Homo sapiens: one gene and its partners. The protein of the gene in region 4 purifies or fractionates together with the protein of the main gene of each other region. This does not show direct contact. Each region holds a gene or a part of one and is shown on either strand. Other genes may lie near its edges.

Region 1 (4,817 bases), on a different chromosome or scaffold from region 4:
CGAGACCCTGTCTCAAAGAAAACCGACCAAACAAAAAGGCCTGTCCCTAAATTAATTTATATGCCATCTTCCCACAGACTGTAGAAGCTCTGAGGTCAGACCTGGGCTCAAATCCCAGTCCCATCTGATAGTCATGGGACCTCAGGCAAGTGATACAAGCTTTCTGGGCCTAAATTTGTAGGCTTATGGCTATGGATAAACAGTAGTACTGATCGTATAGGACTGTGGTGAGGATTAAATGAGAGGATATACGCAAACCCCTTCCAATAGTGCCTAACCCATAGTAAGCACTGGATAAACATCCACTGTTATCACAGCAACACAAAAAGATTTGGAAGTGGGACAATGGTGGTGAATAAAAATTCTGTAAGCTTTCTTTTTCCTTCAAACCTTTTAAAACTCCGGTTTACCTTGCCTCAAAAGAGGTCTGGCTTTAGTCCTTGACGTTCTGGAGGCAATTTCTAACCCTTTCGAAGGTCATGCCTGATAAGAGTGTCTTTGTTTACCTGAGGGCGTTGGATCACACTGGAAAGCCTAACAGTGTGATTCAGCCTGAGCGCTTTAGGCCATGTGGTATCAGCACAGCCTACTCAGGGCCTGGAAACTGAGATCTGCCCTGTGGATAGGCGACCATGTCTATGTGATGAGCCCCAGTAAAAATTCTGCAGCCCAAGGCTTGGCCAAACTTCGCTGGTTGGCAATACTCCATGTGTATTGTCACACGTTGTTGCCAGGAAAGTAATGTTGTGCACACTCCACGGGGAGAGGATAACTAGAAGCTCCACAATGAAAAACGTTCCTGGACTCTGCCCTATATGCTTTTTCCCTTGACTGATTTTAACCTGCATCCTTTCCCTGTAATAAACTGTACCTGTGAGTATAAAAATAAGTAATTTAAAAAATAAAATTACAGTTTATTCCAAATGCTATCAAGGAAATTAAATGCATACATTTCATTAAAAATAAAAAATAAAAAGCAACCATGATCTGTGAAGTGTTGGGGGTAAGATATGGGGGGATGACCCTTCCCTCCTGGAGGACAAGCTCTTGCCATGGGTTATTCCCTCATCCAGCATCTCCACATCTGGGTGCTTACTGGCACCAAGCCCAGAGCTGGGCGTAGGGCTAGGGCACTGCACATTTGCTGAGTGACAGAAAAGAACCATATATGGGACAGCTAACAGGCAGTACAAACTTAAGTTAAAATAAGACATCAACACTTAAGGTCCAAATTTATAACTTCAAGACCAGGACAGTAAAAAGCAGCTAGCAGCTTTTGTAGACCAGAGTAAGTCTTTCTTTAAAAAAAAAAACAAACAAAAACAAGAACAAAAACAAACAAACAAAAAAAATTAAGTCACTAGGAATAGAGGTTTACCAGGGAGGAAAAAAAAATGGGTGTTATTGTTTAATGGGTACAGAGTTTCCTTTTGGGATGATGAAAAGTTCTGGATATGGATAATGGTGATGGTTGCAAAACACTGTGAATGTACTTAAAGCCACTGAATTGTACACTTACAAATGGTTAAAATGGTGAATTATATGTTGTGTATGTTTTTATCACAAAAAAAAATGCAAAAAAAGTCACTGGTACTCTTCTCTGGGTACCTAAGGTATTTCACAATATAAACCCCATGCATGCAAGGCTCAAAATGGCATAAAACAGTTAATATACTTTCCAAGGGACATAAACCCTTACCAGGTAGTGATTTGAACCTGAAGAAGTCTAACTCTACTTTATGGAGAATACACTTAAAACAGTACTCTTTGGTTAATAAAAACAATAAAATCACCTAGTCAATTTTTTCCTCAAAGATTAGTAGGGCTACTAAATGAAGTGAAGACACGATGTTTTGACTCAACGGATGTCTTTGTTTAGATAAACTCTGGTCTAGTGAAGAACTCCACCCCACAAAAAACATCTCTCAGTAGAATAAAAGTTATCATTTGAGTTGGTATATTAGGATAATTTTTTTTTTTTTTGAGATGGAGTTTCACTCCTGTTGCCCAGGCTGGAGTAAAATGGTGCAATCTCGGCTCACCGCAACCTCCACCTCCCGGGTTCAAGCGATTCTCCTGCCTCAGCCTCCCGAGTAGCTGGGATTACAGGCATGCACCACCATGCCCAGCTAATTTTTTGTATTTTTAGTAGAGAAGGGGTTTCTCCATGTTAGTCAGGCTGGTCTCAAACTCCCGACCTCAGGTGATCCGCCTGCCTCGGCCTCCCCAAAGTGCTGGGATTACAGGCGTGAGCCATCACACCTGGCCTATTAGGATAATTTTTAAAAAGTCAAGCTTGCATACAAGTAATTTCATGAGTTGAAAAGTTATCTATATGAAACTCCAGGTATAATTATTTTTCTCTCAGATCTGTCCCTTTTAGCCTCTCTAATTCAATCTCAACAAGCAGACAGCACAAAAGACTCAAACTGTTCACTTATAGAAGCAACAGGTGAAGTGTTTAACACAGGTAACTAGATTTCTAAGAATTTTCTTTAGGTCACCCATAATCCCTGCTGCTTTCATTCTTTTACTCTCGTCCTTCCTCCTATGGAAAACTTTTTGAATGATGACTTATGCCTGGCTGAACATCCCAACTCTGCTCTGCAGTACCAAGTGGCCTCATTTGATCCTCAGTGCCCTGAGATGCCCTGGTGGGTATTACCCAGATCACTTTGGACACACACCTGGCACCACAAGGCTGGATTGATCTGGAACAGATGCATGGAAGATTAGCCCATCAATCAGCACTGCTTTTGTAAAAAACTAGAATTCAAAATTTCCTATAAAATAGTACCTCTAATTTTACTGCAAGAAGTCTTTGCTTTCAGATAGTTTCGGATTAAAAACTTGAGAAATTCCGTCCATCCACCATTATTCCATGAAAGAAACAGGAATAGAGGGAAAAAAACCACCTAGATAATTTCCATGTACTGACAGATGCAGATTATGAAATTAAAATATCAATGACATTTCTTTTCAATCATCATCACATAAAAACAAAAATTAAAAACAAACCAAAAGCCTCCCAGTGCCACCTCAGCATAAATTGAGCAACAGCTCTCCCCATCTCTGCCTTACATAATAAACTACAAGCTAATTAAACTGTGAATGAATGTGATAACTTGTTACCCTTAAAGATATTCACAGAGATAGATGAACTTCATTTTGGAAGCTGGAAGGTAAAATTCCCCTCCCTGGGAACCCCTACAGGAGTCGGCCTAAGCTTCCCTTCCTGCATCCATGTGTGTGTTGGTTCCTTCTGCACTGCACAATCCCCAAGGCTGGAGAGAAAGGCTGTTTCCCTCTGCTCTGTATTCCCTACAGCACCAGGCCAGGGCCAGGCTGAATGAAAGTCAAGTGCAATCCTCGCTATGCTACCGGGAGAGCCCTAACATTCCTTTTGGATATTTGTATCCAGCACACAGTATTATAAGCACTTGACAGCTGAATCCTGCCTCTTTGAGGCTATATTTATTTTATTTATTACATGCCATTTTGTACCTTACTGAAGAAACAAAGGCGGGGGCAGAGAGGGGAGACCAGAAAAATCTCCCAGCAAAAAACAAATGAGTATTGTAATGAACTATAATCATTAAATTGCACTCCATATGTCTGATCCAGGAACCAATAAGTAAAGGGGAGGGTTAATTCTAAATGACCATCAATCATATTGTTAAGCCTTTTTTAAAAGAATACTTATCCCTAAAGAGAGAACCTACACAAAGTGACCTTTGCAATTTACTGGTATCAGGGTTGGAATAGACTTCACAGCTGTGCATTTCACAGCCATAAAAGATAAGAAAATTTGACAGCCTTGGAGAAGTAGGAAGAATCTGCAAGTTAACACCACCCCAAGATCCTCACAATTAAAAATATTTTCCAGAGGATTAGTTCCTCTGTCAAGAAAATTGCAACCATCACCAAGCAGGAACATATTGAACCTGTGAACATTTACTCTGCCAACTTTGACAATTCAATATACCTGAAAACAACCACAATGTGATTGAAAACAAAAAGCAACACCTACCCACTAAGGAAAAAAAGTATGCAGAGAGGACAGAAAAGATTACCATTATTCCTTACTCAGCCTGACTGCAGTTCAGTAGTTTGGATTAGCATTTTGAAGTGTAAACACAATTATTTCGGCAAGGCATGATTTAAGGAAAACACACACACACAAATACACTGTGGTGACACTTGTGTCTCTGCAAGACACAGCAGACGTAAGAATTCAACAATCCCCCTACCCTGTTTTCAGATGCTTCCCCCATCACTGCTACAGGTCACCAGTATTTATTTGCATTACTGCATCCCCCTGCAATGGGCCAGAGTTGTTTCCCAGTGGTGCATTTCAACATTAAAGAGTCATAGGAAACACCTGGAATGATCTGCCACCATCACCAAAACCAAGGCAGCAAATCTGAACACTTCCAATGGGGCTACTTTTTCCTCCAAGCCCTGCTCAGAAACACTTAGAAAGGAGAACCTGAAAATACTTTGTCCCCTTTCAGATAAAATGTTATCAGGAACACCCAGGTGTATGCTGCAAGGTAGCCCACATCACCCAAAGCTAGAAGGCAAGGGCACACTGATTGCAATGGTCCCCCAAAGTATACAATGCATCCATTCACATATCTGGTCTGTTTCATCAACTATGGTAAAGAAAGTGTTTGCTGTTGTGGCAGGGGAGTGGCTCTATGAAGACAAGGTCCCAGAGAGAGTGTTGGCACCTTCATCACAGAAAGAAACAAGTACATACATACCCGTGCCTCTGGAGCCAGCTCAACAAATTTCTGGGTGTTTCTCACATGCCA
Region 2 (4,817 bases), on a different chromosome or scaffold from region 4:
CCCTCACTATTCGTAACATGAGCATTTTGCTCACTAACTTGGGCTCCAATGCCTCCAGCCAGAATAGCAGCATACAGACGTGTTCTTTTAAAGTTTATACTTATTCCTTTTTGTAAAAGATTATTATACCAACACTTTTAGTGAAAATTAAAAGTGTTCTCAATCTTTAAACCCTCTTGAGTAAATTTAAACCCTCTTAAGACTCACATCTCTATTAGGGATAAGACTAAACTTCTTCCTTTTTTATCCTTTCTTTTACCCTAGACTTCTCAGATGTACTTTTAGGGTTGTCTTTTTATTGTAATTTTGACAGTAAGGTAAAAATTAGTTCAGTCTTTGTGTGTGTGTGTGTGTGTGTGTGTGTGTGTGTGTGTGTGTGTTTTAGGTTTAGGAGTCAGTCAGACCTGGTTTTGAACTCTGGTTGTCCTAGATGACTGATTGTCACCTTTTATAGGTGATCTAATCAGTATCTCAATTTCCTCACCTAATTTTTTAATAACATTTATCTAAGTCCAGTGGTAATAGCAGCTAACTCTGTCTCTGTTCATACTCTTAAGTTAGCTTTGTTTAGTGGGTGATTTTTAAGCCTTTTTAATGCAGTGTTCTGTTGTTCAGTATTGACGGTGTTTTAATTTTTTAAATGTATCGTGTTCTGGTATTTTGAGGATTAAATGTGGAAAGGCATGCCAGAATGTGTAGTTCATTACGTAGTATATTGTAGGCATTCACTCTACCCATAGTTCTGAACTCCAGGTTTGTTGATATCTATGTGTCTATTAGGTCTGTGCCCTAGGGGAGCTTAGTCCTAATCAGGCCTTCTTTTTTGATATCTAGTCTTCTTTCCATTTTCTCCTAACTAGTTTCTCGTACTTTCCATCTCTCCACCACTGCCACCTTTCTGCTACTACATTAAGCTCAAAATCCCCAATTTAAACATCTTATAAACCACTTTCAAAACAAATAAATGGGAGAGAGATAGACTTGAAGTCCACCTAAGGAAACACAACGTAAGTCCTAATTGGACTTAAGAACATTAACTTTTTGCACTTTATTATCATTATTTTTCTTTACTTGCCTCAGTCGTTAGTTACTCCCCCACTGGTACATTTAAAAAAATGTCTTAGAAACTCTTTGCCTATTTCTCACATTTGGCACTTGGCATATGCTATCTTGTTCATCTTCTGTATCCTATGTCTCCAAGTCTACTCCTTGTACCGGGAAGTGATACAGTATCTTAATCCGTCTTTATATTCCAATACCAGGCTCAGTACCCTGACCACAGTAGTTATTTAGCAGCTTAAAGTAAACCAAAACAGAAGTACAAACATGAAAGACAGCGGCCAAAACAACACTGTTATAAAAATTCTCTGGGATCAATGAAACAGTCTACAAATGATAGGTTTTGTTTGGTTTGTTTTGAGACACAGTCTCATTCTGTCACCCAGGCTGGAGTGCAGTGGTACAATCTCGGTTCACTGTAACCTTTGCTTCCCAAGTTCAAGCAATTCTCCTGCCTCAGTCTCCTGAGTAGCTAGGATTACAGGCGTGTACCACTACACCCGGCTAATTTTTGTATTTTTAGTAGAAACGGTTTCACCATGTTGGTCAGGCTGATCTCGAACTCCTGACCTCAAGTGATCTGCCCGCCTTGGCCTCCTGAATTGCTGGGATTACAGTCATGAGCCACTGTACCCGGCCCCGATAGGTGATTTTTTAATGTAAATATACGTATAGCACTATTTTGTATGCCTAGATGGCTTGTCAAGAAGAATGATTCTGTAAGCTGTTATAATGGGGAATAAATATTAATGACTCAAAAAATTTATAAGCTATCACTCACCTGAAAACTTCATCATAGAAAACCCTTCAGATAGGACAGTTTTAATGTAATAGGTCATATTTCTTTAGAAACTGTTGTGCATGTCCAGTTACTTAAGACATCAGCTTGAGTAATATGAGGGAGATGGATGAAACGAAATAGCTTCATTGTTTCAAAACTGCCACAGAACTAGATATAATTAAAACTGAATGGAGGGTAAACAAATCCACTTAGACTCTTTAAAAAGGTTTAAAATATAGTTCATATTAATATAGCCATTCCAACCATCGTTTATTATTGTTTGCATTATTTGGCATATCTTGTTCTATATGTTTAACCTATCTTTATTTTTAAAGGGAGTTTCTTGTAGACAGGCATATAATTCAGTCTTTCTTTAAAATCCAGTTTGATAATCTCTTTTAATTGGTGTGCACGATTATTTACATTATTTACATTTAATATAATAATGTTTGTTCCTCTATTTTCTTCCTTTTTTGGGAGGTATGGGGAGAGACAAGGTCTCACTCTGTCCCCTGGCTGGAATGCTATGGGATGGCCATAGTTCCCTGCAACCTTAACCTCCTGGGCTCAAGTAATCCTCCTGCCTTAGCCTCCAGAGTACCTAGTACTACAGGCATGCCACCACACTCGGCTAATTTTTTAAATTTTTGTTAGAGATAGGTGAACAGTCTAGAGTTAATCTGTAACTAGAATAACTTGGGGAAATGAGATAAAAAACAAAAACGTATTTATTCAAGGATGACGGATTATATTTATTCCTCAGAAAATGGGAGAATGATGTTTCGGTTTTTGGATCTTTTTGGGAGACAGGAATCTCAGAGCTGTAAGGGGCTATTTGTTTAGAGATTATTTTGATACAACTTTAAGGGACTTGGATTAATATCAGGGTTATTTCTTTGGCATGGATTTGTAAGACTGTTCTCTACATCATCACATCATTTAGAATAGTTTGTTTTAGGGATGAGTTCATTCATCGTTTTTGACTCTTCATCCCTGTTTCCTTTCTCATTAACATGTCTTACTGATATACTTTTATGGTGTCGAACAAATCATATCCTGTGTTAGTCATGGTGAACATAGCAGAAGACTGGCCAGTTAGAAATTTCACTTGAAAAGGTAGTTGGCAGTTTGTAGCATTTATAATAAGATTACATTTAGGTGATAATCCGAATATCACTCAATCTCTAACAGCATTATTTTGGTCTGAGTTGTCTCTTCCAAAAACCAACTATATATACTCTTTGACAATATTTCTTTATTTTGTTAATTTATAAATCACCTGCCCTGTTTCCCTAAAACAAACTATTCTAAATGATGTGATATATTAGGTTATGTCCTAAGACATTGATAACTAGTATCTTACTAATATCAGTTTAGTTTTTCCTATTAGTGTATTTTGGGAGGAGGAACACTCCTCCCAAACACAGGTATTTTGGAACCTGGTGGAGCAGGACAGTCTTAATCCAGTTATTCTACTCTCAGGTTCTTTGCACTAAAAGGGCATGAGAGTCACTCACTAAATAGAGCTAATTTAAGAGAATGGAACATAGAGTTAGCTGCTATTTATTACCACTGGACTCAGATAAATGTTACTTAATTAGTTACATAAATACTGTAAGGATATGATGTTCAGGTGAGTTGTTGGGTAACTTATGACCCTTATAGAGATCCTTTTGTGTATTAGGCCGTTTAGTGTCAATGGTTAAGAGCATAAGGGAGCCTGATTATCTGAATTTCAGTCCCAGCTCCATCACTTGCTAGGTGTTTCCACAATAAAATGGGGGTAATGACAGTATCACTGTAAAATGAAGTTAATCTCTCAAGATCATAGTGGTTTGTTAATATATGTAGAGAGAGGGACTAAGTGTGTTTAGAATCATGCCTGACAAATAACATGTGCTATGGTTGCTAAACATATCCATAAATAATTGGGCATTCCTTTGAAGGCATGCTGTTGGATCCTAGTAATATAGTGATAAAGAAGGCAGGTTAAAAGCTTAACATTTTTGCAGTCATTTGAATCATTAAGAATGTTACCACTTCTTGTTGTTTGAATACTCATGATTTCTGGTGACTTGGATTAATATTTGTGTTATTTGTTGGTAAATTGCTAATGGGTTCCAGTCCTACTACTTAATGCTGGCTTTTCGATCTTGGGCATGTTACTTATTTTCATTGTATGTAAAATTGAGATGCCTCTTTCACCAGGTTCTATAAAAGTTAAATGAGATCATTCGTGACCTGTTAGAAAGTAGTAGCCAAAAATAATATGAAACGCTTACACAAAAATCTAGGTTATGGGCATTTGTAGCATTTGTGATATGATTACATTTAGGAAAGAATCCCAATATCTATTCATGCCTTATGCTAATGTGGCAGAATTTTTTTTTTTTTAATTTTAAGTTTGCATAGTATGTAATACAATCGGTATCTGGGTTAGAGTTGTATTTCATAGGAGTAGGATTGTGAAATGCTTCTTTAAATTATGTGTAAAATATTCATATGAGGGCACATTGATACATATACATTTATGTAACATAATTGTACTTATCTCTGAGATACCTAGAAGGATGAGTTTGTGTTTAAGAAATTCAGATAATAGGCATAGCTAGAGAAAAGAGTAGATGTCCTGTTTACACTGTGCAAGATAATTGCTTTTTTCTGTCTTGGTTTTATAATAACTACTTGTACCAATTTGTAAGGGATTAGTATGAAGAAAGTGATCAGTTCTCAAGAAACCAACGAAAGAGTAACTTTCAGCATTTGTGCAAAATAAACTAATTTCTGGAATTGAAACTCTGTAAAGTTTTAAAAATCTTGTTTAAACAGAACGGGGTAGAATTTCAGAAGCAGTGTTTTGAACATCATCCCTTTTTTCCTATTAAATCCATTCTCATTTTTCTGTGACAAGCATTTTTATGTGGTCATTTATTTTCACTAATTCTCCCCCTTTAACTCTTAGGATTTTTCTGTGGTT
Region 3 (4,817 bases), on a different chromosome or scaffold from region 4:
GCAGTCCTCCTGCCTTGGCCTCCTAAAGTGCTGGAATTCCAGATGTGAGCCACCGTGTCTAGCCTGGGCCGTATTTTTATTTTTTTTTTAATATCTTACAACTCAATAATACGTAGTTAAACAAAAAGACTTGAACATTTGTTTCTCAAAAGAAAATGTAAGAATGGCCAGTATGCACATGAAAAGATATTCAGTGTCTTTAGTTATTAGGGAAATACAAGTTAAAACCACTGAGATTTTACTGCACTGCCAGAATTAAAGACTGATGACACCATGTGTTGGCAAGGATGTATAGAGCAGCTGGCACCCTTATACATTGGAAAACCTTATAACCACTTTGGAAAACAGTTTGGCAGTTTCTTGTAAATGAAATATCTATTTACCATATGACACAGGATTTTCACTTGTAGCTGTTTATCCAACAGCCAGGAAAACATACATTTACACAAAGACTTACGCATGAATGTTCATAGCTGTTTTATTCATAGTTTAAAAACTGGAAGCAACCCACGTGTCTATCATACATGAAACAACGTGCCCACAATGGAATACTATCCAGCAGTAAAATGGAGCAAACTACTTATACATAAAATAACCTCAATGCCATTATACTTAGCAAAAGAAGCTAGCACAAAAGAGAATATAATTTTATACATGTATATAAAATTCTAGGACAAACAGAACTATACAAGGTTAGGGTTGGGGTGCTTGGGGCCACAGGGGGAGGCAGAGGAGTGATGGAAATGTTGTGTCTGCGTTGGAGCAGTGGTTACACAGGTGTATCATTTGTCCAAACTCATCAAACTATACACTTAAAATATGTGCAGCACAGCACATTTTATGTAAATTTTACTTTTATGAAGTGAGTTGTGTAAATTAGGCACTAATATATTTGGTTTTTCAGCTTATCTCTGAGCTGTGGATGAAGAAACTCAGCACAAGAGAGATGAAGTAATTTGCATATGATGGCACTATTAGTAAATGGTAGTCTGCATTCATTTAAAAAGATAGTCAAGTGTTTTCGTTGTGTCATTGTTTAATCTTTTTATAAGCATTCCAGCTGGGTTACATATGGCTCTTAAGATTTCTTCACCCTAGTAGCTTTTAAAATCAATATGTTAAAAACATTTTTTTAATTACTTTTATTGTTTTTGCATAGTTGCAAGCAGTGATTTTAAAACCTGTCATTGTTTTATAACACATTAATGAAAATTTAGTCATTGAAACTTGGATGTTTCAGATGATCCTCCGATTCTCCACTCCGGGTTCTAGATACGCTTTTCTGGATCTTTCAGTCTAAAGATAGAACTTTTCTTCACCCAGACTAATTTGTAGGAATTTCTTCTCCTTTGGGGTATCATTACAGCACTGACTCTGTCTTTTTCACTTTGCTTCTTTGGCTCTGTGCTTTTTACCTGTAGCTGTACCTTAATTTTCTCAGGGCTCACATGCCATCATTTTGGATATTTAATACCTTCATTTCTCTCCCTTAGACATTCCAACTCTGGCAGCTGCTTCTAAAGTATCCATGCTAAATTTCCTTTGTCTCTAAATTTAGATTTTGAGATTCACTGTTGTGCTTCTAGTTTTATTCAGCAAATACTGAATGAGCAACAACGTCTGGCACAATAATAGGTACATACTCAGTAAACATTGGACCGCTGGATTAATTATTCTGGTCTTAGTTTGGTGAATTATCTAGATGTAATATATTTCCCATCTTATGTGTTTTCATTTTAATGTGTATGTTCATCAGAGAAATTTCTGATATTTTTGTGGGGTTTTTCCTTCTCCATGCCTGATACCCAGTGTTAGTCAGAAATAGAGTTGTCATAACTCATCTGATACCTTAATGTTTCAGCATCCACCTCCAGATCGACAGGCAGTACCTGGAAGACCAGGCCCCTTTCCCTCCAAGCAGCAAGTAGCTGATGAAGATGAAATATGGAAGCAAAGACGAAGACAACAATCAGAAATTTCTGCAGCAGTAGAACGTGCTCGTAAACGGCGTGAAGAGGAAGAGCGAAGAATGGAAGAACAAAGGAAGGCAGCTTGTGCGGAGAAACTGAAACGATTGGATGAGAAGCTTGGCATCCTGGAAAAACAACCATCTCCAGAGGAAATTAGGGAAAGGGAGCGAGAAAAAGAACGGGAGCGTGAGAAAGAACTTGAAAAAGAACAAGAACAGGAGCGAGAGAAGGAGAGGGAAAAAGACAGAGAGAGACAGCAGGAAAAGGAGAAAGAGCTGGAGAAGGAGCAGGAAAAACAAAGAGAAATGGAGAAAGAAAGAAAGCAAGAAAAAGAAAAAGAACTAGAACGGCAGAAAGAAAAGGAAAAAGAACTACAAAAGATGAAAGAACAAGAAAAGGAATGTGAGCTGGAGAAGGAAAGGGAAAAATTAGAGGAGAAAATTGAACCCAGAGAACCTAATTTAGAGCCCATGGTAGAAAAACAAGAAAGTGAAAACAGCTGTAATAAAGGTTTGATAGTATTCTTCATTCTCTTTTAAAAACTTTACAAAGAGCTTTATGTTGGTTACAGTTTGGGGTTTGTATATTTTAAATATATGTAATCAATATAAAAGTGATTGTTTTATGATAGCATTTGCAGTACAAAATATGGGCTAGAGCCGTGTTTTCTAATTCTGTATATGAACAGACGTCTCTGAAGTGTTTCTCAGTTATTAGATGAGCTTCATTTCTGTTTTATCTGCAGAATTGTATTGGCTTCATAGTCACATATACTGATTCTCCCCCTGCTTTTTTCTGACTCCAAGACATTTAACTAAACAAAATCTCATTTGTTCACATGCATTAATACCTCTAAAACTGAACTGGCATAGAGCTTAATGAGTATGTTGGATTATCATAATTAAATGACTGCACCTAGTTCATAATTTCAGGTTTGCTGTTTAATCAGTTTAAACATGCAAGCTTCCATGGTGTAGTTGATATGCTATTAAACTGTAATTTCCTGGAGTAATTATACTTTAAAATAAAATTCTTTTTCTAGATCTAATCAACTTTTTTGTTCTTCTCCGAGTTGGCTTGTAGACTGATTAATGGCATTCAAATATAGTATAAAGCCTTGGCAAAGTTAAAGTTCAGGGTTTTCGTTTTTTGTTTGTTGTTGTTGTGGTGGTGGTGGTTGTTGTTGTTTTTGAGACAGAGTCTCTCTCTGTCTCCAGGCTGGAGTGCAGTGGCGGAATCTCAGCTCACTGCAAACTCCACCTCCCAGGTTCAAGTGATTCTCCTGCCCCAGCCTCCCAAGTAGCTGGGGCTACAGGCGCGTGCCACCGCACCCAGCTAATTTTTGTATTTTTAGTAGAGACGGGGTTTCACTATGTTGGCTAGCATAGCCTCAATCTCTTGACCTCGTGATCTGCCTGCCTCGGCCTCCCAAAGTACTGGGATTGTAGACGTGAGCCACCGCGCCCAGCCTAAAGTTTAGTTTTAATGAACGACTTGAATTAAAATAGAAATGCAGTTTTATTTCAGTGTATTTTCTGATGTGGAAATATTGTAAGTTTTCTAACCTGACGTCTCATGCTCTTTTCTACAAGGCACTGCTGCTTAAAATAATAAGAATGTGTTTTTAAAAATAAAGTTTTTATTTATATGCAGGGTTACCTTCAAACTTGGCTCTTAATTTAACTATAAAGGAGTATGAGTATTTTATCTTTAATTTTTTTAATGAAATAAGGCCTGTATGGACCATTTGTTAAGACTCTAAGATTTCAGATTTTTTTCATATTAATCAATCTAGAGAGACTTTGCTATTGAATAGTGGGCTTATATTACATAAGTACTTATGAAGATTGCTCATAACACCAAAATAGTGAAATAAAGTGTTCACAAGAGAAAGGAAAACATTATCATAGTTTAATAAGTTTTATTTGTGCTTTTATTTTCATTCACATTTTATATATTCTCTCTCATGGCAATTTAATTTTAGCTTGTTTATCAGTGAGATGTACCCATGTGATTTTTTTTTCCCCCCTCAATTCTGATACTAGACACATACAATTTTTTTGTTTGTTTTAATGCTCTCTGAGATGTTCTCAAGACACACGTGATTTTAAAGTCAGTGCCTATGTGGCTCTTTTTCCTCCAGTATATTATTTTCCATTCTTTTTTTTTTGGCTGTGTTGCCCAGGCTGGTCTCAAACTCCCAGGCTAAAGTGATCCTCTCACCTCAGCCTCCTGAGTTACTGTTATTACAGTCATGCACCACCATGACCTGCTCACTCTTTTACAACATTCTTAATATTGAATGTAATCCAAGCAATAAAAATGTTATTTGTGATTCTTAACAGCATGCTTTTACATTGGGAGATAAACTTCCATTTTAAATTCATTACTAGTCATTTGAGAAAAGAATTTGTAACAAGCGTGGATTTGTAATTGTGACAAATGACATTCTAGAATGAATTATGTTTGAAGATAACTAGTGATCACTCTGTTGTCTTCAGACTTAAACTCATTAGTTTTCCTTACAGATAATAGTCCCTTTACCCAATAAATAACTAAATAAACCAACATGCTCTCTTTTTAAGTATTTATAGGCCATTTGTGTTTTCATGTAGATTTTAATGAACTACCAGTAAATACTGACAATTACATTGATGTTTATTGAAACAAATAAAAAATATGTGGAGTTGGAAATGTTTCATTATTTAAAAAAAAAAAACATAGATTTTATATGATGAAGCATTTGGATCTCTGCTCTCCATCTCTAAGAATGCAGCTTTTAGGAAATCTAAGGTTTTGATAATCTAATGTTACCTCATTGATAACTACCAATGTTAAAGTAGAAAA
Region 4 (5,628 bases):
ATGTATGTTTATATGCATATATGTGTATATGTATATATGTTTATATGCATATATGTGTATATGTATATATGTTTATATGCATATATGTGTATATGTATATATGTTTATATGCATATATATGTATATGTATATATATACAGGGTATATGTATATTTATCCTTCAATTTAAAAAATGGAAGAGGACTGTTTTTAACACTACAAAAAAATTATATAAAACAAATATAATTGTACAATATATGGCCCTGCTGTAAATAATAATGCTAACATCATAATGTAAATACTTAACAACAGCCAAAGCTGTGATATAACTACATTGGTAGACTAGTGGAGACGAGTAAGAAGGAATCGAATGTGTGAATTAAATCCTAGTCTTTCAAGAGCGAAGAAAATAGATAGTATCTAAAAGTGAAAAGAAACAGCTTTATAACCATGTTATTTAGAAATACTGGCTCTCCTGTTTCCTGGATCCTTCTCTTGCAAAAGAAATAGCTAAGTATGGACACTGAACAGCATTAGGAGTATGGAACTTAGAGGTGCAAAGCAGGCAGGGCACTGCTGTTTTTTTGTTACAAGCTCCATGATACGCAGAGATCTAATCACAGTCCAAATATTTGACTTCACAAGCAATTTCTTTACTATTTATACATTGTCTTACAAGGCATGTACTCTCATTTAAAAATAATAATTTGGGGCTGGGCACAGCGGCTTACACTCATATCCTAGCACTTGGGAGGCCAAGGTAGGCCCATTGCTTGATCCCAGGAGTTTAAGACCAGCCTGGGCAACATGGCAGAACCTTATCTCTACAAAAAAATACAAAAATGAGCTGCGTATGGTGGCATGCGCCTATAGTCCCAGATACTCGGGAGGCTGAGGTGGGAGGATTGCTTGAGCCCAGGAGGCGGAGGTTTCAGTAGTTTTTTTTCACCACTACACTCCAGCCTGGGCAACAGAGCAAGACCCTGTCTAAAAAAAAAAAAAAAAATCATTAGAATTTTGTTTTCCTTGTGAACAGCTCAGCACTGTGACAAAAGTGCCACCATTCAGTCATCTTCCCAGTTGAATTACTGGCAGGTATCACATGGGTTTTCTCTTGAAGTACTTGTGGTTTAACAGTTTACAGCAGTGATAATCTCTTACATCATACCCTCTAAACTGTCAACCTGTTTAGCAAATATGACATTTCTAGACATTTACAGTTTCCACTGATTTTATTGTTTTTAAAAATAACTAAAGGCTAAATTCCATGAAGATAACTGTGCATCTTATTTGTTTCTTTAATCCTAAATGTAAGACATCTAATGCCTCAAAATACCACACTAAATGCAAGGGTCTCGCGCAATCTCACTGCAACCTCCGTCTCCTGGGCTCAAGTGATCCTCCCACCTCAGCCCTGCCCCCTTCCCCCTCCCAGCCCCCCACACCACCACCACTGCCACCAAGTAGCTGGGATTACAGGCACGCACCACCACGCCCGGATAATTTTTTGTATTTTTAGTAAAGATGGAGTTTCACCCATCTTGCCCAGGTTGGTCTTGAACTCCTGAGCTTAAAGAATCCGTCTAGCTCGGCCTCCCAAAGTGCTAGAATTACAGGTGTGAGCCACCGCACCCAGCCTAAATAGATATCTTAAAGGATAATAAAGATAAAATACCTTGTTGGGTTATTCTGACAATACATGTTAACCACTGAATACTTTTGTGTCCTTTAATGGGGTATGATTCAGTAAAATTAGGAGCAAATTTAAGGGCTTGTGAATACGAAAACTTCCCATTGAAATGAATGGCATATGTGTGTGTGTGTGTGTGTGTGTGTGTGTGTGTGTGTGTGTGTGTATGTGTGTGTATATATATATGTGTATATATATGTGTGTGTGTGTATATATGTGTGTGTGTGTGTGTGTGTGTGTGTGTGTGTGTGTGTGTGTGTGTGTGTATATATATATGAATAAGACTTTATCCTAATCAGGAGTTTTTCAGTATCAAATTACCTTTGAAAAGCCAGGTAAGATTTGTTTGACTTAAATGCCTAGGTTTCATAAATACTAATGGTTAGAATGAGGCTAAAACAAGTAGTGCCTAATGAAATTTTTTTTAAAAGTTAGTGAATCTGGCTGGGCACGGCGACTCACATCTGTAATCCCAGCACTTTGGGAGGCTGAGGTGGGTGGATCAAGAGATCAAGAGTTTGAGACCAGCCTAGCCAGCATGGTGAAACCCTGTCTTTACTAAAAATACAAAAAGTAGCCGGGCATGGTGGCACATGCCTATAGTCCCAGCTACTCAGGAGGCTGAGGCAGGGGAATCGCTTGAACCCGGGAAGCGGAGGTTGCAGTGAGCCGAGACTGTGCACTGCACTCCAGCCTGGGCAACAGCACGAGACTCCATCTCACAAAAAAAAGAAGTCAGCCAGGCGCAGTGGCTCACACCTGTAATCCCAGCACCTTGGGAGGCCGAGGTGGGCGGATCATGAGGTCAGGAGATCGAGACCATCCTGGCTAACACGGTGAAACCCCGTCTCTACTAAAAATACAAAAAAAAAAAAAAAATTAGCCAGGCGTGGTGGCGGGCACCTGTAGTCCCAGCTACTCGGGAGGCTGAGGCAGGAGAATGGCATGAACCTGGGAGGCGGAGCTTGCAGTGAGCTGAGATTGCACCATTGCCCTCCAGCCTGGGCAACAGAGCGAGACTCCATCTCAAAAAAAAAAAAAAAGTCAGTGAATCTAAAGAAAAAATATAAAGTAAGGAACACTCAGGGGCATTTAGATATGCCAATAATCATAAAGGAAGCAACGACTGCCATGTGGGAAATATAACAGCATCCCACAACCCAGTCTGTCACCAGATTGCCAAACTGAAGGGCATCCAGGGATGGCGGGTCATGACCTGTAATGTGAGCTGCACTATCCTAGAGCCCAGCGTTTACTCAGTCTATCCTTTCCTTCAACTCGTACTGATCATTTGGGGCCTTGTACGCCCATGGTAAGGAATCCAGAATTGATTCTATCAACTGCAATGAGATGAGGCTGGAGAGTTTTAAGCAAAGGATTTATAAGATCTGATTTGCATTAAGCATCAAATGTGCTGATGAATATGAAAAGGCTCAGTAAACTCCAAAGTATCACCCCAGCATATTTTATTGCCTTGACAGAGGGCAGAACAAAACGAAGGGAAGAAAATAAAGCAAACTAAAATCCAAGTAGAATTGACCCATTACAAATTATGTGGCCAGTAGTCATGACTCAGGCTTCCCTTATGCCCCATTTAGGGAGATGGAGAAGATCAGGTCTGATGGAAAAGGGAGAGGATTTTGGCTTTCGACATACTAAGTTTGAGATGCCCATTAGACATCAAAGTGGAAATGCTAGAAGGCAATTGGATATACCTACCCATCCAGAGCTAAAAGGAGAAACACGAATGGAAACAGAAACTTAGGATCCGTCAGCGTATAGAGCAGTTATTAATAACAATACAAGCTAATCTTTATAGCAGTAAGCTATGTACTTATAGCTGAGAAAGTATGTTTCAGTCACTATTTTAAGTGCTTTATATGTACAACTCACTTGGTCCTCACCACAACCTTGGAAGGTCAGGTCCTATGATACTTACTTTACAAATAAATAAACTGAGGCATAAACAGATTAAATAACTTGCCTAAAGACACATAGTAAGTAAATACCAGAGCTAGGTTTCAAACCTAGGTAATCTGACTCTGGAACTCTTTAAAGCCATGAGATTGCTTGGCAAGTACAGACAGAAATTAGACTGAGGACACAGTATTTCAATTTAAGCAATTTCCTGAATATCAAATGGCTGGCAAGGTTTCAGGCTCTGCAGATACAATGAAAAATAAGACACAGTCTCTTCAGGAAGCCCAGTCTAATTAACTACTAGCTGAGAGCAACTATTTACTAAACAACTATTCCTATATGCCACACTGGCTACGCTTTTAAAACATATTATTTCACTTAATCCTCCTAACAACTTTATGGGATAGATGTTATCATCACCTCTTTAGAAATAAGGAAACTGAAGTTAAGAGAGGTTAAATAACTTAATCTTGGTCACCCTGCTAGGATTCAATTCAGGTCCACCTTACTTTAAAATCTGATTTTTTTTTCCAAGGAAATTCCATCACATGCTATACCACAGATGATCCTTGAGGACATTATGTTAAGTAAAATAAGCCAGTCACAAAAAGACAAATACTGTATTACTATACTGGGGTTATCTAAAGTAGTCAAACTCACAAAAACAGAAAGGAGAAGAATGGTTACCAAGGACTGGGAGGGAGAAATGGGAAGTTGTTCAATGGTAGTTTCAGATTTGCAAGATGAAAAAGTTCTGGAAATCTGTTTCACAACAATGGGAATATACTTCACATTACTTAACTATACACCTTTTTTTTTTAAGATACAGGGTTTCACCATGTTGCCCAGGCTGGTCTCAAACTCCTGGGCTCAAACAATCCGCTCACCTCAGCTTCCCAAAGTGTTGGGATTACAGGTGTAAGCCACCACACTGGGCCTGACCTATACACTTATAAATGGTTAAGATGGTAAATTTTATGTTTACATATATATATTTATATATGTATATAGTTTGAGGCAGGGTCTCATTCTGTTGCCCAGGCTGCAGTGTAATGGTGTGATCATGGCTCACTGCAGCCTTGACTTGCCAGGCTCAAGCGATCTTCCCACCTCGGGTTCCTGAGCAGCTGGGACTACAGGCATGCATTTCCACACCTGGTTAATGTTTTTTTTTTTTTTTTTTGTAGTAGAGCTGGGGCTCCACCACACTGCCCAGGCTTGACTCAAACTGGCTCAGGTGATCATCCCATCTTGGTCTCCCAAAGTGCTGGGATTACACACATGAGCCAATGTACCTGGCCTATATTATATATTTGTTTACTACAATGAAAAAATTTTGGCTAGGCGCAGTGGCTCACACCTGTAATCCCAGCACTTTGGGAGGACAAGGCAGGGGGATCATGACGTCAGGAGTTGGAGACCAGCCTGACCGACATGGTGAAACCCCATCTCTACTAAAAATACAAAAAGTAGCCAGGTGTGGTGGCACACGACTGTAATCCCAGCTACTCAGGAGGCTGAGGCAGAATTGCTTGAATCCGGGAGACGGAGGATGCAGTGAACCGAGATTGCGCCACTGCACTCCAGTCTGGGCAACAGAGCGAGACTCCGTCTAAAAAATAAAAAATAAAAAATGTTTAAATCTGGTCTTTTCCTACTATACCACATGCCATAACAGTATAAAAATATGGGTAATCTGGGCAACAGAGCAAAACCCTGTCTCTACCAAAGATACAAAAATTAATGGGGTGTGGTGGCACACGCCTGTAGTCCCAGCTACTAGGGAGGCTAAGGTGGGAGGATCACTTGAGCCCAGGAAGTTGAGCTTGCCACTGCACTCCAGCCTGGGTGACAGAGCAAGATTCTGTCTCAAAAAAAAAAAAGGGTAAGCAAATAACTTATTCTGCAGGATGGGAGAGAGGAGCGGAAGGGCACAGCATGGAATAAATTAAAAAAAAAAAAAACTAAGAAAAGAAATATTTGAAAGATGAAGGTCCCCATTTTATCCTCACTATAGCTCCAGGCAGGGGGTCTCTACT

The links. The genes of interacting proteins can lie anywhere in the genome.
Region 1: the proteins of TRPC4AP (region 4) and CCDC6 purify together in Homo sapiens (affinity purification with mass spectrometry; 2 studies listed by BioGRID and IntAct, with this or other methods). This does not show direct contact.
Region 2: the proteins of TRPC4AP (region 4) and SCAF11 purify together in Homo sapiens (affinity purification with mass spectrometry; 2 studies listed by BioGRID and IntAct, with this or other methods). This does not show direct contact.
Region 3: the proteins of TRPC4AP (region 4) and PRRC2C purify together in Homo sapiens (affinity purification with mass spectrometry; one large-scale study listed by BioGRID and IntAct). This does not show direct contact.

Annotation. Positions count from the first base shown.
Region 1 is NC_000010.11:59,895,288-59,900,104, forward strand, and holds part of CCDC6 (coiled-coil domain-containing protein 6), read right to left. Parts: intron 1-4,817.
Region 2 is NC_000012.12:45,979,306-45,984,122, reverse strand, and holds part of SCAF11 (protein SCAF11), read left to right. Parts: intron 1-4,817. UniProt on the Homo sapiens protein: Plays a role in pre-mRNA alternative splicing by regulating spliceosome assembly.
Region 3 is NC_000001.11:171,530,482-171,535,298, forward strand, and holds part of PRRC2C (protein PRRC2C), read left to right. Parts: intron 1-1,861; coding exon 1,862-2,480; intron 2,481-4,817. UniProt on the Homo sapiens protein: Required for efficient formation of stress granules.
Region 4 is NC_000020.11:35,084,642-35,090,269, forward strand, and holds part of TRPC4AP (short transient receptor potential channel 4-associated protein), read right to left. Parts: intron 1-5,628. UniProt on the Homo sapiens protein: Substrate-recognition component of a DCX (DDB1-CUL4-X-box) E3 ubiquitin-protein ligase complex required for cell cycle control.